2 linked regions of the Homo sapiens genome follow. The protein of the gene in region 1 purifies or fractionates together with the protein of each later gene. This does not show direct contact. Each region holds a gene or a part of one and is shown on either strand. Other genes may lie near its edges.

What was found. The genes of interacting proteins can lie anywhere in the genome.
Region 2: the proteins of ZNF45 (region 1) and DNAJC10 purify together in Homo sapiens (co-immunoprecipitation; one large-scale study listed by IntAct). This does not show direct contact.

What each region holds. Positions count from the first base shown.
Region 1 is NC_000019.10:43,918,283-43,921,782, reverse strand, and holds part of ZNF45 (zinc finger protein 45), read left to right. Parts: intron 1-2,020; exon of another isoform or gene 2,021-2,083; coding exon 2,084-2,210; intron 2,211-2,820; coding exon 2,821-2,913; intron 2,914-3,500. UniProt on the Homo sapiens protein: May be involved in transcriptional regulation.
Region 2 is NC_000002.12:182,757,757-182,761,256, reverse strand, and holds part of DNAJC10 (dnaJ homolog subfamily C member 10 isoform 1 precursor), read right to left. Parts: coding exon 3,432-3,500; intron 2,421-3,431; coding exon 2,367-2,420; intron 2,098-2,366; coding exon 1,950-2,097; intron 1-1,949. UniProt on the Homo sapiens protein: Endoplasmic reticulum disulfide reductase involved both in the correct folding of proteins and degradation of misfolded proteins.

The sequences.
Region 1 (3,500 bases):
TTATAGTCCCTTGAATTGATGTTACTCTGTGGTGTGTATGTGAGATAACTTTTCTCCTCATTCATCAATGTTTAGGTAGTTTAGAATTTTTACTGAAAATTGTTACTACAGTTTTCCCACAAATAACCATTTTTTCCAAAAAGCAATTTGAAGGAGTTTTGCTATTATTTACTTTTAATGTTATAGAAACACTATATTGAAAAAGTACTTTTGATATGTGGTACTTTGGGTAGTTCCTATGTCAATGATTCAGATATGACATCGTGTGACATGATGCCACTGATTTTAGAGAAAATATTATTAGATATTTCCACAAAAGAAAGCTAGATTTTTCTTACCCAGGCCTGAGTTATACCCTATGTATGTTTACTTACTGATCCGTATTCTTTTACTCTTATGTTAACTTATTTTATTGAAGTAATAATGTACTTAATTTTAAAAGTCTAGCAGTACAAGAGGACTTACCAGATACTTCTCTTACTGTATTTATTCCTCAAACCAACTTTATGAGGCAGTCCTTGGTCTCATGTGCATTTTAATTACAAAGAAACAAGACTGTAGAATTGTGGAAAGTTGCTTAGTTTCACATAGGATACCAAAGATCCAACTGATTTCAAAAGACTCCAGGATTTTTACTTGACTGAAGAGAGAGAGGCAAAGAAAAAGAATTCTCCACTTAGTGGACCTGGCCCTTTTTGTGTGGGTGCCTAGCTTGTCCTGGTTAGTGGAAGATGCCTCAGCTAATACTGCCCCTACTCGATTCACTCTCCAGTGGCCTCTTCTTCTCTATGACCACTGTCATTCATTTAGGGTACCTGAATGTGCAGGGCTCCAGGGATGAACAGTCTTCATATGAAAAGTTAAAACAGTATGATAATGCTGGCCGAGCACAGTGGCTCACACCTGTAATCCCAGCAGTTTCTGAGGCCGAGACAGGTGGATAACTTGAGGTCAGGAGTTCGAGACCAGCCTGGACAAACATGGCTAAACCCCATCTGTACTAAAAATACAAAAATTAGCCTGGCATAGTGGCGCACGCCTGTATTCCCAGCTTCTCGGGAGGCTGAGGCACAAGAATCACTTGAACCCAGGAGGCGGAGATTGCAGTGAGCTAAGATCGTACCACTGCACTCCAGCCTGGGGAACAGAGCAAGGCTCTGTCTCAAAAAAAAAAAAAAAAAAACCAATACGATATGCTAGTGCTTCTTTATCATGGGTGACTTTACCGCCCACTGCCCCCCCCCCCCACCCGGCAACATCTGGAAACATTCCTGGTACCACAGGTCGGGGGTGCTACCAGCATCTAGTAGGTAGAAGCTAAGGGTGCTGCAAAATGCCCTACAGTGCCCTAGACACCCCCACACAGCAGACAACTATCCCGCCCAAGACAGCAATAGTGTTGAGTTTAAGAAACACTCCTGAACACAAAGCTATAAAACACCAGCAAAATGTAGGTGAACAACAACGTATATGCTAAAAAACGACTTAAAATCATCACTAGAAATTTTACAGAGTTATAAGATAAAATTCTAAATGGAATATCAATAAAAGGACAGTAACAGGTGAGATACCAAAGAAAAATAAAGATGTCCAGTAAATATACGAAAATATGATCTTACTAGTTAATTACAGACCAAAAAACCCAGTTGTTTCTTAATGAACAGATTGCCTAGGATTTTTTAAAAATTGGTTATATTCAGTGTTATCTATGGTATGGAAAATCAATGATACTTTATCTTGGGGGAAGGATAAGACAGGGAAAAATTGAAAAGAAAATCTGTCGTACATCATAATTTGGAAGTTGCATATTCTTTGACATTGTGATTTTTCACTTCTTGGAACTTACCTAAGAAAATAGGTGGGTAATATCTATGCAAAAAGTTGTTCTTTACAGCATTTATTATGAAAAGGAAAAACCTAAAATATAATACACTTTATATGTGTTTAACTGTAATAAAGTTGAATATGGTCTCTTAAGAATCTGACACCTTTCCCTACACATCTTTTTCACATTTCTCAGTGCTATCCCTTTTCCAGTGGACCTTTATTGCAAGATTTAGGTGGAGTGTGTTTGATGTTGTAGGAGGCAGTGACATTCAAGGACGTGGCTGTGGTCTTCTCTGAGGAGGAGCTGCAACTGCTGGACCTTGCCCAGAGGAAGCTGTACCGAGATGTGATGCTGGAGAACTTCAGGAATGTGGTCTCAGTGGGTGAGGACAGGCATTCTCTGACTGAACATTGGCTCCCTCTGTTGTCTCTCTGTCCTTGGGTATACAGGGCTTTGGAGCTCTTGAACTGGTTTTCAGTTTTCTAATCATCCATCATAAGACAGATATGGAATTTTTAAAGTCTTTCTCCCCTGGCAAAAGTGTGTATTTTGTTAATGAACCATAAATTGACAGCATGACAACTATACACTTTTATCCTTTCTCAAATTGTGGTCATCTCCAGTTAGTGGGTCCTGATATACATTTGATGAATTGTACCATTGGTTTTTTTAATGAAATAAAATGGGGTAGAAAATGTCAGAGCACTTGGCAATAACTGCACATTGCAGCAAAAACTATGTCCTGTTGCCAAGAAGAATGTGAGAGACAATGGAGGGGGTATGATGAAAACATTTTTTTTCCCAGTAATTTATACTTATATCTGCATATCTTGGGTCTTTGCATGAAATATACTTCCTCCAATGGGTCATGATTAGAAGTGTGGAAAACACTAAGTTTGATGTCCTGAAGACGATGAAATGAGGACAATAATTTTGAGTAATTTTGGCTTCTGATGTATTAATTATAAACCTATGTCCTTGCCTTTTCACAGGGCATCAGTCCACACCAGATGGCCTACCACAGTTAGAGAGAGAAGAAAAGCTGTGGATGATGAAGATGGCAACCCAGAGAGATAACTCCTCAGGTGAGGAGGGGCTGGGGCTGCTGGACATTTTTCTGTTAGCCTTGGAGATATTCCAAGGTTGGCAAACAAAAATGTGTGACGAAGGCATAGTCTAGAACAGTTTTTTTCCCCCTGATGAATATCTAATCTAATTCTAATTTATTGGGTGCTTTTGGATATATGAAGATCTGTATTCATTAACCCACTTAGTTTGCTCAGGATGCTAAAACAAAATACTACCGACTGGGGGAATTATAAACAACGGAATTTTATTTCTGACATTTCTGGGGGCTGGGAAGTCCATGTTCAAAGCACCAGCAGATTCAGTGTCTGCTGAGGGCCCACTTCCTGATCCAATGACAGCACCTTCTTTGCTGCGTCCTTACAGGGAAGGGGCAAGAAATCTCTCTCAGGCCTCTTTTATAAGGGCACTAATCCTATTCATGAAAGATCTGCCCTCATGACATAATCACCTTCCTAATGCCTTAGGAGTTAGGATTTCAGCATACAAATGGCAAGGGCACACACATTGAGACCATAACACTCACATCTAATGAAAGCTTAGCTTTAGTTGTAATCAAATTGAGTATCATTTCCCCCTTGTGGCT
Region 2 (3,500 bases), on another chromosome or scaffold:
ATCCTTCTCTGGCATCACTGACACCCTTCTACCCCTGTTCCAGCTTCATTCTAATTTTACTGTAGCAATTATCTTGTATTACTTATATTTATTTCCATTTTCTCTTTCCACTAGATTAAAATCTCCTTAAAGACATGGAATTTCTTTCTTTTCATCTTCCTTTTCTTTCATGTGGAGTTACGTGGCCCTACTACTTAGCATAATGGCTTTTCATTTGGTACTTAAAATTTGTTGAATAAATGGTCTTTTTCATGTTTAATAATTTTCTACTAGATACAATATAGAGTTGCATTACAAAGTTTATAACTAAAGTTTTTAGTACATGAGAAATGGAGTAAAGCAGAATTATTACAGAAGGAAGCATAAGAAGATTAGAATGGAAAGAATAAACCTCTTATCTGATGCACCAGCTAATAACAAAAATAATCTTTTATAGCTAGTAAGACCTTTAAAATCCCTCTGCTAAAAAATTCCCATGGCCTGGGATGCTAAGCTTTAGTGTGAACTGGTGGAACTGGAGCTGACTTTCTCATTCCAGTTGAGTGTTTTATACCAACACTAGTGGCAAGAGTTCCTCGAGTTATGGAGGCAAGAAAGCTATCAATCTGGATTAGGTCACTAATAAGACTGTTACGACAGAAAGAAACACCAAAAGCTCAGACTGCATTGAGGGTATGTATTCAGTTTAATTTTATATAAGCATTTACTGAGTTAGGCCCTGAGGATATAAAAATAAATAAAACATGGACTTTGCCCTCAGGAAGAGACAGCCATTTACAAAGGAAGATGGACAATGCTATACCGAAAAATAAAACCAACCAACCGAACAAAACCCAAAATTGCTACAACTAATTATTTCCATTGGTATCCAGCTCCTTTTATTTCTGGTCAAATTAAATATCTTTCAAGTAATAATAAATAAAGAATTAATATGCACTGTATCAGTACACTTGATAACATATCCAGGTGACACTGATTAACTGAGAAGGGCAGAGAATAGAGCAGTGCCATCGGAGCTGAGTTTTGCAGTAAGAGGAGAAAAAATACAGATGACCAAGGTAAGGACAGAGCATTTTAGAGAGAGGGAGCGGCATGTAAATAAGGACACATGTTCAGAGAACCTGGAGTACTCTGTTACACTGGAATCTAAGGTGTGAGGTGGACAATAGAGATAGAGCTCATATCAGACACCTGAAGTCAATGTATGCATATTAAGAAACTTAGTAAGTCAGAGAGGGAAATATTTTAGAAGATCACCAGGGCAGCACTGACAAAGGTAGACAGTATAATACCATAGATGACTCTTGAACAACAAAGGCTTGAACTGTGTTGAACTGCTTGAACTGGGAATTTTTTTTTTTAAGCAATTGCAGATGGAAAACAGAATAGTCATAGGATGTGAAACCCTGCATACAGAGGGCCCACTGTGAGGCCTGAGCTGCACAGATTTTGGTATGGAATGGGGGTTCCTGGAACCAATCCCCTGAGTATATCAAGGGAAGACTGCACTTAAAAGGCAAATATGGTTAAGTCTAGACAAGAGATGATAAAGGGTTGAAGAAACAGGTTAGCAGTAGAGATGAATAAGAAATGACATTTGAAAGACATTTAGGGGATAAAACTGACACAATCTAGTAACTGCCTGGAGGGCAACAGAGTACTGGGGTGGGGAGGAGAAAGTAGACAAGAGGGAGAAGAAAGAGACGTTTCTGGCTTTTATGGCTAGTAGATGATGATGTCTACCAAGATAGAGAAGATGTTAGCTAAAAGCTTTAACAAAGAAAGAGGAAATCTACTACAACCATTACAGTCATAGAAATATAATAGCTATTTTTAAATTCAGAGGAAACATTTAAGAAAAAAACCTAAAAATTACATACTTACAATGTTTTATCTAATTACTAAAACATGAATGTGGCTACAACTTATTTAAGACAGGTATGACTTACCCTAGCCAAGAGCTCAAATTCTGGAGCAAAATTCTGGCAAGGTCCACACCAAGGAGCATAGAAATCAATCACCCAATGATTTTTCCCTTGTAGAACTTTTTCACTGAAAGTCTGAGGTGTTAGATCTGTGGATACTTGAGGTAAAAATCTGTGGCAAATGATCAAAATCATTTTTCATTATATAAAACCAAAGCAAACATATGAAATGCAATAATATTGTAATACTTTCTAAGTTAAAAATGATGTCAAGGAAGGGCAATGTAATAAAGTACAGTACTATCTTGGTTAATATAATACTTTACTAAGTAATTTAAAATGCTAGAACCTTAACCCACAGTAAATTTAACTATTGATATAAAAGGGGGGTAAATGGCTTTGAATCTATTTTATACAATGATATATATTTTAATTACTCACCCTAGACCCCAGATTCTCAGGGAATAAGCATCCCTATTCCAACCATTGTAACTGCTGAGAGAAGAAAAAATGTTAGTTGTAAATAGGATTCTCTATTATTGGATGTATTCAGAAAACAATCTTATTGTAGCAATTTAAAAAATAAGTTATATTGATTGATTTCATCTGGTATCTCTCTTCTCAAATATACCTAGCTACAAATTCTGGTTATAAGGCCTCACAAATGTATTTTTCTCTAGTCTTGGTATCTTTGTGCCCCAGACAGCCCAGAATGTCTAGCTGTCTACTGGACATCTCCTGTAGACCTATGGGAATTGCGAAACTCAGAATGTCCAAGGGTTTTAGTTTCTGAATCTTTATTCAAGTTATTACTGTCTGTCAAATTCCTACCCATTTTTAAAGACACATGTCAAAAACTACCTACAAAATGCAGCCTTTCATAATTTCCTCATAGTTGTGACCCTTTCCTCTCTTGAAATCCATGGTTCATTTTTACTTGTTTAATAACATTCATCATATGTACCTTACATTTGAGTTTTCTACCTGAAATACCACGTGGTGTTGTGGAAACAGCATGGGTGCTGAGACAGACTTGGGTTCAAACCTCAACTTCAACTTAGCAGCTGTGTGACTTGGGGAAGTTATCTAAGCCTTAGATAACTCCTAGACCTTGGATTCTAAGGTCTGAGAATCACAGTTTACTTCTCTGTAATAGTAGGAAGGGTAGTAATTCCTAGTTCACAGAGCATATGTGAGGATTATTGGAAATAAGGTGAGTAAAGTATCTAATATAGTACCTGAAACCAAATAAGGTGTTTAAGGACTTAATAAATGTTAGCTCTTCCTTTCCTTATCTTTTTGTCTAGACTATAAGCTTTATGCACAGTGAGACTGTTCAATACTCCCTTTTCATCTTCTGAAATGTTCATTAACAAACTATCTTTACGTAGTGGGCTCCCAATAAATATTTGTTGGGTTAACTTTTATTTTGTTCAGGTAACTTAACTGTTAAGTGTATAATTAAATAATTATAATAAATGTCTTCAAATATGAGAGAATACTTACTGATAATGATAAGCTTTATTTGATTTTGGGGGAAAAAATCTTATCTCAGGGTATCTTTGAACGTTTTCC